Regions from separate parts of the Homo sapiens genome. Here region 1 is linked to region 2. The links come from fine-mapping of genetic effects on gene expression. A gene starts in region 2. The other region holds a variant in brackets. All regions are shown on one strand. Distances are from middle to middle.

Region 1 (5,379 bases), 120 kb before region 2:
GTCAGTCCTACGTGCTCTGGGTGTAAGGAAAGAATTGTGTTACCAGGGGCCCAACTCCTCTGCTGAAGGAGTGGGTCCTGTAGATGGAGGGCGAGGGGGTCCCGTAGATGGAGGGCGAGGGGGTCCCGTAGATGGAGGGCGAGGGGGTCCCGTAGATGGAAGGCGAGGGGGTCCCGTAGATGGAGGGCGAGGGGGTCCCGTAGATGGAGGGCGAGGGGGTCCCGTAGATGGAGGGCGAGGGGGTCCCGTAGATGGAGGGCGAGGGGGTCCCGTAGATGGAGGGCGAGGGGGTCCCGTAGATGGAGGGTGAGGGAGTCCTGTAGATCAAAGCTGCAATGGCTCCATGAAGGCTGCCACGTGGAGGTGGTAACCAAGGCAGGGACAATGGCCTGGACAGCGCTATGGACGGCTGAACAACAGCTCAAGGAGCAGAATGTTCACAGCATAACACACCCAAGTGGAGAGATAGCAGAGCATCTGAGACTCATGAGTGCCCTGTTGCCAAGGCTCATGGAGGGAGAGCCATCTTGGGAAAATAGATTTGCTGTTCATAAAGCCACAGGGCTTAGAGCACTGGGGTGTTTGAACACTGTGGGGGAGCAAAAGATGTACTCACTCATTAAAATCCCATTACCTGGCCAGGCGTGGTGGCTCAGGTCTATAATCCCAGCACTTTCGGAGGCCAAGGCAGGCGGATCACTTGAAGTCAGGAGTTCAAAACCAGCCTGGCGGGCCAGCAGAGTGAACCCCCTCTCTACTAAAAATATAAAAATTAGCTGGGCGTGGTGGCAGGCACCTGTAATCCCAGCTACTCGGAGGCTGAGGCAGGAGAATCGCTTGAACCTGGGAGGTGGAGGTTGCAGTGAGCCAAGAATGCATCACTGGAATGACAGAGAGAGACTCCGTCTCAAAAAAAAAAAAAAAAAAAAAAAAATCCCATCACCTGCAACACTGGGCTATTCTTTCTTCGTTCTATCTGCAATGTAGTAAGTGTGCCTTCTAAGCCTCCCTTCAGTTCATTGGTCTGTAGGCAGGCCCTGGTGCAGAGCCTTGTGCCCCTCCACTGGACAGCTGGTTTAGGTAGCCGCAGAATCATTCATCATCACTGTTTTTGGATCTTGGGCTATCTGTGCATGAACCTAAGTAAATACTCAGCCAGGCACCGCTTTACTGATGAGTCAGCTGGGGAAGACTTTGTCAAATGATTTGTAGAAACAGAAATGTGATTTACCTCATCTACCTATCTGGAAGTCCACTCAAAAAAGAAAAATAAGTATGACTATCCTGATTTATTCTTAGTATCTCTGTGTTGATGCTTCATGACTACTGTATGCTTTTCTAAATTCTCACAAACCATCGATTTAATAATCCATCAGTACAAAAGGGTGTGCCAATGGGTCACTTAAAATGGTCTCTAGGCCCCAACTTCCAAGAAGTCTCAGTCTACCCTTAACATTGGAAAAGTCAGTACAGTCTAAGCCACATTTTTATAACTAGCTTTACTGGCTATCTTCCTTCGATTATCTTAATAAGTTTAGTGGTACAACTGAATCCTAGTTTAATAAAATCCCATAAACCTAAATACCTTTTAAATTTACTTCAGAGGAATAGTAACATGGTAAAAGAAAATCTGTCTATCTATCTACATATATATATGTACTGTTTGAAAGGAAGTCTTTTTAGATATCTAGCTTGAAGCTTTCTTAACATAACAAAAGAGATGGAACATAAAATGTGATTTACACACAACTCTTCAGAGGCATGCCCTGTGTATAAAGAGGGGGCCACCCATTCTGAATCCAAACATATTCCTGGACAGTGTGAAAGAAAGCCCAGGCCAGCTGCCCACCATCGGGTCTTCTACGTGCTTTTGACTAGAATCCTTTGTTGCTGCCTGACGTGATTGTAATTTTCTGCGATACTCTGCTTGCTGTCTGTCGAACTGAATGGATAATGACATTTTTATTTGGGTTAATGTGATATGAGATGGGGCATGTAATATGAAAAATGTTTTAAAAAGCAATGCAGAGAAAATATTATAAGACAGCCGAGCATAATCTGTATGTTGGCCAATAGCCATCATTTCAGGTTTTCTTCCTTGCATTTTACACAGCAGTTACGGAATATTTACTTTTACATGAGTTGCATACAAACAAAAGCTGTCTTTGATGGGCTTGCATAATCTTTATACAATCCACAAACCCCGCAGTTCTTCTCCTAGATTTTTGAACAAGCAGGCAAACGTGGCATGTGCACACACACACACATGCACAGATGAATACACAATGCTATTCTCACTCAGATCTTACTAAAAGATGCATTCGGTTGTTACATTTCATCTTCTTCATGGGATAATGAGTAATTTTTATTTTTTGTTTTATTCCAAATTTTTCACAATGCACATGTATTACACTTATAATCAGATAAAATATTAATGTTATTAGGTTTAAAAAAAGTGATTTATTGGGAGTTCTTATAGACTGAATGTTTGGGTTGCCTCAAAATTCATACATTGAAGCCCCAACTCCCAGTGTAGCTGTATTTGGAGATAGGGCTTCTAAGGAAGTAATTAAGGTTAAAGTCACAAGGATGGGGCCCTGATCCAATAGGATTGGTGTCCTTATAAGAAGAGACACCAGAGCACTCATGCTTATTCTCTCTCCCTCTCTCTCTCTCTCATGCACAAAGAACAGGTCTTGTGGGCACAGAGCAAGATGGCGGCTACCCACAAACCAGAAAGAGAGGCCTCCCTGGAAACCAACAACGCTGGCACCCAGCCTCCAAAACTGTGAGAAAATACATGTCTGGGCCTGGCACAGTGGCTCACTCCTGTAATCTCAGCACTTTGGGAGGCCAAGGCAGGTGGATCACTTGATGTCAGGAGTTCAAGACTAGCCTGGTCAACATGGTGAAACCCCCTCTCTACTAAAAATACAAAAATTAGCCAGGTGTG[G/A]TGGCCCGTGCCAGCAATCCCAGCTACTCGGGAGGCTGAGGCCAGAGAATCACTTGAACTTGGGAGGTGGAGGTTGCAGTGAGCCAAGATCACGCCACTGCACTCCAGCCTGGGTGACAGAGCAAGACTCCATCTCAAAAAAAAAAAAAAGTCTGTTGTTTAAGCCACACACTCAATGGTGTTTGGTTATGACAGCCCAAGCTAAGACCGGGGTTGCAGTGCAGTAGCCAAGCTAGGGGAGAAAGTTTCCCATTTTGTTCCTCTCGCCTCTCACATTGGTTGTCCCTACACAGGTGATGCCGAGTGTGAGGCTGAGCAGCTGTCTGGCAACCAGTGGTAACCATTCAGGGGAAATCACCATCCCCACCCTGGGAAGCAAATTCCCCAAGGAAGGAAGGTTCTGCATAACCTGGAGATTCTTATGTAATTAAAGTACCCAGTTTTTTAAAATTTTATTTTATTTTAAGTTTTGGGATACATGTGCAGGACATGCAGGTTTGTTACATAGGTAAATATATGCCATGGTGGTTTGCCGCACCTATCAACCCATCACCTAGGTATTAGGCATTAGCTATTTATCCTGATGCTCTTCCTCCCCCCTCCCCCAACAGGCCTCAGTGTGTGTTGTTCTCCTCCTTATGCGCATGTGTTCTCATTGTTCAGCTCCCACTTGTAAGTGAGAACATGTGGTGTTCGGTTTTCTGTTCCTGTGTTAGTTAGCTGAGGATAATGGCCTCCAGCTCCATCCATGTCCCTGCAAAGGACATAATCTAGTCCCTTTTTATGGCTGCATAGTATTCCATGCCATATATGTACCACATTTTCTTTATCCAGTCTGTCATTGATGGGCACCAGTTTTTTTTTTAATGGATTTTCTACCAACTGTGTCTGTGAAATTTTGAGTCAAGGTGCAGACAGAGGGCAACAGAGTGAATTCTAAAAGGAGGGAGGGCCTGATGAGTGGGCAAAGAGAGTAACGACCAAGAAGGGCTGAGAGCTTCTGCTCAAAGGTCTTCTTCTCCTCTCCTTTTGGGTGACTCACAGAATCTCATCACTGAGTTTCCTTCCTTGAGTGTAAGATTCCGACCTTGTTGGAGAATACTTGCCCCAAGCATAGCAAATACTCAAAGGCACTGCAAATTAGTAGGTTTCCTTCCCCTGGCACTTTATAGCTGTGTGATCTTGGGTACATTGCCTAACCTCACTGAGTCTAGTTCCTCATCTGCAAAAATGAAAATAATACCTCCCTTGAAGAGTCGTGACAAAGATTAGAAACAAAATATGCAAAACACTTGGCACAGAAAGCAGGGAGTGGTGTAAACATGGTAGTTGTCCTCTGGAGGGATCCGTCCTCCCAGGCTGGTTTGGACTACTGGAATCATTCTCTTCTCTTTTCTTGTTCCTCAGGGACAACTCCCCATTGGAGCCATCTGTTCTTGCCTCATCATGTTAACATTGCTTCCTTTCTTTCATCTGTTCTTTCATATTTATCTCCTCAGTCACCTCCTAGTTCAGGTGTTGCTACTTGTCACCTGGAATATGGTTGTCATCTTCCTTCTTGAGAAAAAAGACTATAGCCTAAGCATCTTTGTAGTCTTAGGACTTTGATAGTGCCTGACACCCAGGTGTACTAAAGAAAGTTCTTTGAAAGAGCTTCCTGGCCTCTTTTCTTTTCTTTTGAGACAGGATCTCATTCTGTCACCCAGGCTGGAGTGCAGTGGCATGATTACAGCTCACTGCATCCTTGCCCTCCTGGGCTCAAACCATCCTCCCATTTCAGCCCCTCAAGTATTAATATCTGGGACTACAGACACACACAACCACAGCTGGCTAATTTTTTTAATGTTTTGTAGAAACGGGGTCTCCCTATGTTGCCCAAGTTGGTCTTGAACTCCTGGGTTCAAACGATCCTCCCACCTTGGCCTCTTGAAGTTCTGGGATTACAGGCATGAGCCACCATGCCTGGCCAGATCTTCCAAAAATACTTGTTATTTCAGTAATGCTTTGCTGAAACATTTGTAGATCCCCACTGACTGAAGGACACAGTACAAGATTCTTATCTTCCAAAGTCCATTACGAATTGAATCCTGCTAATAACCGTGTGATGAGGCTTAGAAGCAGATCTTCCCCCAGTCAAGCCTTCAGATGAGACCACAGATCAGGCCAGCCATTTGACTACTACTCCAAGACACCTTGATCCCTCTGGCCTCAGCCCTCAGTCCCTCTGGACTCAGCCTTTGCACTCAGCTAAGCCATGCCAGGATTCCTGACCCACAGAAACAATGAGCTAACAAAAGTTTGTTTTAAGCCACTAAGTTTTGGGGTAATTTTGTTACACAGCAATAGATAACTAATACACTCTCAATATTGCTCTTTTGTGGTAACTATTGCATGTTGTCATGGATTAATGAAGTTTTTGGTATTTG
Region 2 (5,379 bases):
TCCTTCTGTTTTGTTTTGTTTTGTTTTGTTTGAAACAGAGTCTTTCTTTGTCACCCAGGCTGGAGGGAAGTGGCATGATCTCAGATCACTGCAGCCTGTGCCTCCCAGGTTGAAGCGATTCTCCTGCCTCAGCCTCCCAAGTAGCTGGGATTACAGACACCTGCTGCCATGCCCAGCTAATTTTTGTATTTTTAGTAGAGATGGAGTTTCACCATGTTGGCCAGGCTGGTCTCGAACTTCTGACCTCAAGTGATCTGTCTGCCTTGGCCTCCCAAAGTGCTGGGATTATAGGCATGAGCCACCGCGCCCAGCCCATTTGATTTCACCTTCTCAGGGTTTAGGTTCTCTGCTGCCATCTCACCTGGCTGGATGGCACATGTAACACTTAAAGCAAAGACTAATGTGCTGCAATGTTTAATCCACTCCCCCTGCCAGTTTCTCCTGCAAGTGTCTCTACACCTCCATCTTTCCTTGCCTGTGAATCCTCTCACTGGAGGAAAAGCACCCCTGTCTCTTCCACACATATCCTTTCAAGACAATGAAGCAGGAAGGGGGCCTTGCCTCATTCAAGCTGGTGGCTGTTGCTTAGTGGCTGACTAGAGTCTCACCCGGAACAGAAGGGTTGAAAGCCCAAGGGTGGTTCCCCTTGCACTGAATCAAGGGATGGACCCAAAAGCACCAGAGCCAGGGCCGTGACCTCTCTCCTGCTGCCTCTGCTCCTCCTGCAGTATCCTCTCTAGACATCCAGCTCACCCCCAGAACCTCTGTGTCTCCCCTGCCTTGGGCACCTTCTCCAGATCTCCTGCTTCCTGACCTTGTACCAGGGCCTCCTCCAGACTGGGCACACATTAACAGGTTAATAAATATTTTTGCAATAACAAATAGAAGTCAGCTCTCACTTCCTGTTTACCACTTCTGCTTGGTACATTTATCTTAATCTCTGCATCTTTGAACCAGGTTATTAATATGGCCCAAGAATAGACAGCAAACACATAGCTGCCCTGCTGAATGGTGTGGTGTTCCTACATGGCAGGCACTGAGCTGGAGGCTCAGACACAACAAAGACTGAAACAAAAGTGTAAAAAAGTGTCCGCTTTGAGAACCACAGTCAGAGCATAGCTATTGATGAGATTAATATGAATAAGCACATTAGTAAGAAATTAAAAATAAACCTAAACCACTAAAGACTTATTTTCTTTTAGGTTACATAGATGATAGATGGTTAATTATAGTGGCTGACATCGACTAAGCACTTTCTGCATGTCAGACACTGTGCTTCGGGCTTCCCGGAGCATAAAAACACATTGAGATGGATTATTGGGGGCTGGGGGTAGGGAAGGAGCTACCATTTGCTCTTGGTTTTACATGTGGCCAGTTTCAATCCAAGGTAAGCTACAATGAGATAAAAAAGTTCAAAAAAAAAATTAAACCAGTTAAAAAGAAAAACAGCACTGGGACTGAGGCTGGGTTTCAGAGCCAATTTCCAAGAAGTAATTTCATCATCATAGAACATCAAACGTGAATTCCACTCTCAGCTATGCAAATTCCAAAAGAATAATACCTCACATTTGCATAATGCTTGATGCTTTTCAAAGTGCTTTCCCAGTTATTAATCTAGAGAAGGCTTTATTACTACTGAAAACATAAATTAAAATTCTGTTCGGACTCCAGTCCTCCATTATTTTTTCCACTCACTTTGCCCTCAAAAGCCAGAGCCATCTAAATCCAGGTGCTTTTGATTGAATGGGTAACTCTAATAAGTTTAACTGACAGGGCGAATATGCATAAATGTAGCATATTATGAGGCCTTCGACCTACAGACACCAGAGTCAGCCTTAGGAAAATTTGCTGTTGAATTAACAAAACCACAGGGGAGCAACTCGGAGTTCAAGTTTGAGATCCTTTCAGGGTCTCAAATTTTGTAGGAGCTGCACACACTATGTTCATCAGAATCCATCTCCCTCTATCAACTATGAGAAATTAGATCTACCACTTTGTCCTTAACCCTACAGAAATCCCCCTCAATGACTTCCTGCAAAGAGGCCCACATTTGCCAAACAGCTCCTACGTCTTGTTTTGTTTTGAATGTAATATGAACCAAGAGGCTGAATTCACTGTAAATCCAACAAGGACAGAGGATTTTAGAAAAATGAGGTGAGGAGATATGACGGGGTTCAAGGAAATGCTTCTACCCAAACCTAATGCCTTTCCAATTTGTTTCTTTTTCCATCTCTTTCAAACTTAATTATGTGTAGCGTTCTCAGTCACTGAATCACCAGCCTTTCCTGACACTTCAATCTCATGCATTTTAGCAAAAGATTAACCTGGCTGTTTGCTTTTAATTCTGAAGCTGTGTTAATACTCACTCCCGCTAGATTAGAAAAGAAGAAAAACACACTCCCACATACCCCGCCATGGCACCAGCAAGGCTCCAGGGTGAGACGGCTGACGCTGTCACAGTCCCTAGGGCTGGCTGCACTTACCATTTCAGGAGGGCCAAGAGAGCCACTGACAGGGCCACCGTCACCATGGGGCCATTCACTTCCAATTTTAGAAACCCCAAGGCTTCCATCATTCCTCTGAGACCCCAGAGTGGTGGTCTTCCAGATGAGACAGGAGGCTGATCTCGCCGCCCTTATGGGAACCGTGCTCTGCAGGTAGAAAAGGGAACAGGCAACCAAGCAAACATCACATGGAGTGGGCCCCCACAATGTGCTCTTTCTCAGAGTGTCTCCCTATAAAGAGGAAGGAAGAGGAGGGCACAACAAAGGGTTTCAGTGTAAAGGAATGAATCAGCAACTTTATTCCTTGATGACTGCACTGTCAATAAACATTTATATTAACTTCCTCAGAGAAGAAAAGCAAACTTCCCCATGTTTGCTGAGAAACAAAATGGTTGTAACCACGGACTTGTACTCTGAGAGGAAGTCTTCAAAGAGAGACTCTTCTCCAAAATGTCTATCTATATCTATCTCTATGTCTATATCTATATCTATATCTACATCCATCTATAATTTTTTAAATTCACAATTAAGTGAAGATACATGTCAAGAGATTCTGAATATCCCAGAAAAATACAGGACCAGACGCCAGCCTGATCAAAATGCTGGCTGCTTTGAGGACAACCATCCCACCAAGTCCATTAGTTGCTGGGTCTGAGGACCTGTCTGAGTGTCTGGCTGTTGGAGCAAAGCAAAGATCCCGATTGGGGTCAGTGTTCTCATGGTGAGTTGGAGGGCTTCTCAAGTGTTTGAAGGCAGATCCGTAGGCTCATATATGGGTCCTTTGTTCTAGCTTTGAGCTTATCTGACTAAAGTGGACAGAGAGATGGAGGGGATCATAGTGGCTGGGTGGCAGGACTAGATTGCAGCTTCAGACAGAGCAGCATCTGGAGGCTTCCATGGTGAATTTTAGCTCCAGATCAACTGCAAGAAAAAACCAGCAATCCCAAAAGGACCCACAGACTCTCTGAAGGAACCAGACTGCTCCTGCAGGACCCAGAAGACACTCCAAATACTGTGAGTGCCCCATTTGCGGAAGTGGGAAAGGGAGACCCTCCTCTCCCAACACAATCCCCCAATATTGAATGGGAGAAATATTCAATGAAATAGCTTAAAGAAAAAATAATTGAAAATTCAGGAAACTTTGGACACACTTTTAGAAATGTGAAATGCTCTGGAAAGTCTCAGCAATAGAATTGAACAAGTAGAAGAAAGAAAATCAGAGCTCAAAGACAAGGTCTTCAAATTAACCCAATTCAACAAAGACAAAGAAAAAAGAATAAGAAAATATGAACAAAGCCTCCAAGAAGTCTGGGATTATGTTAAATGACCAAACCTAAGAATAATTGGTGTTCCTGAGGAAGAAGAGAATTCTAAAAGCTTGGAAAACATATTTGGGGGAAGAATCAAGGAAAACTTCTGCAGCCATCTAGAGACCTAGACATCCAAATACAAGAAGTACAAAGAACACATGGGAAATTCATTGTAAAAAGATCTTTGCCTCAGCACATTGTCATCAGGTTATCCAGAGTTGAGACAAAGGAAAGAATCTTAAGAGCTGTGAGACAGAAGAACCAGGTAACCTGTAAAGGAAAACCAATCAGATGAACAGCAGATTTCTCAGCAGAAAACCTACAAGCTGGAAGGGATTGGGGCCCTGTCTTCCGGCTCCTCAACAAACCAATTATCAGCCAAGAATTTTGTATCCAGTGAAACTAAGCACCATATATGAAGGAAAGATACAGTCATTTTCAGACAAACAAATCCTGAGAGAATTCGTCATTACCAAGCCACCACTACAAGAACTGGTAAAAGGAGTTCTAAATCTTGAAACAAATCCTGGAAACACATCAAAACAGAACCTCTTTAAAGCATAAATCACACAGGACCTATAAAACAAAAATACAAGTTAAAAAACAAAAGCAAAAAACAAACAAAGAAGTACACAGGCAACAAAGAGCCCGATGAATGCAATGGTACCTCACATTTCAATATTAACACTGAATGTAAATGGCCTAAATGCTGCACTTAAAAGATACAGAACTGCAGAATGGATAAGAACTCACCAACTAACTATCTGCTGCCTTCAGGAGACTCACCTGACACATAAGGACTCATGTAAACTTAAAGTAAAGGGGTGGAAAAAGACACTTCATGCAAATGGACACCAAAAGCCAGCAGGGGTAGCTATGGGCTTCCTTTTCTGTGCCCCCACAGGTCTTAGGATGGTCACAGGTACATTTGTTACAGAAGGCTGTGGTCACAGGTGCAGATTCCCTGGAAAGGAGTGAGAGAAAAGACAGGGAGGGCACACAGAAGGCTGCTGCCTTCACCCAGAGAGAAGGGATGCTTGGCTAGAGGAGAGAGGGAGGTGGGAAGAAGTAGATGGACTTGAAATATATTTTGGGGGTGGGTTCATGCTCTGCAGAAGTTCCTGGTGGGGTGCATATGAAAGGGAAGGGGAAAGGAGGACCACACCTGACCCTCAGGTTCCAAACTTGAGCTACAGGTATATCAGGTGCCATTCATTGAAACAGGGAGTCTGGGAAAGGTGAGGTATTGTTGGGAAAATCAAGAATTCTGATTCAGTTTTGTTAAGCCTGAGATGCCCTGGAGACATCTGAGTGGAGGTGTCGAGCCAGAGAGCACTGATGGCTGAAAATATGAATAATAACAATTGATCATGATCATGTCATTTGAGTGCTTACTACACACTAGTTATTCTAGGAGCTTTCCTATGTGTCAACTCATTTAATCCTCATACACACACCTAGCGGGTAAATCTTATGGTTAGCCCCAAGTTACAGAGGAAGAAACTGAGGCATGGGCTGTATGACTCTAAAGCCCATGCTCTTCCTCGAAAGATTATATTCAAACG

Evidence for each region. PIP is the estimated chance that this variant, and not a neighbour inherited with it, causes the effect.
Region 1: its variant is fine-mapped to the expression of TBXAS1 in whole blood (INTERVAL, PIP 0.97).

The regions. Positions count from the first base shown.
Region 1 is chr7:139,945,593-139,950,971 of GRCh38, reverse strand. All of the region lies in intron 5 of TBXAS1 (thromboxane A synthase 1), which reads right to left. It overlaps LOC105375532 (a long non-coding RNA gene), which reads right to left. Exons shown (of 2, transcript XR_928043.3): 2 at 3,825-5,379. Among named protein-coding and RNA genes, the nearest start is that of PARP12, 110 kb to the left of the region's middle. The variant G/A (reference allele first, on the strand shown) is at 2,954.
Region 2 is chr7:139,826,584-139,831,962 of GRCh38, reverse strand. TBXAS1 (thromboxane A synthase 1) reads right to left here and starts at 2,699. Exons shown (of 13, transcript NM_001061.7): 1 at 2,484-2,699. The coding sequence starts at 2,572. RefSeq lists an enhancer at 1,827-3,026.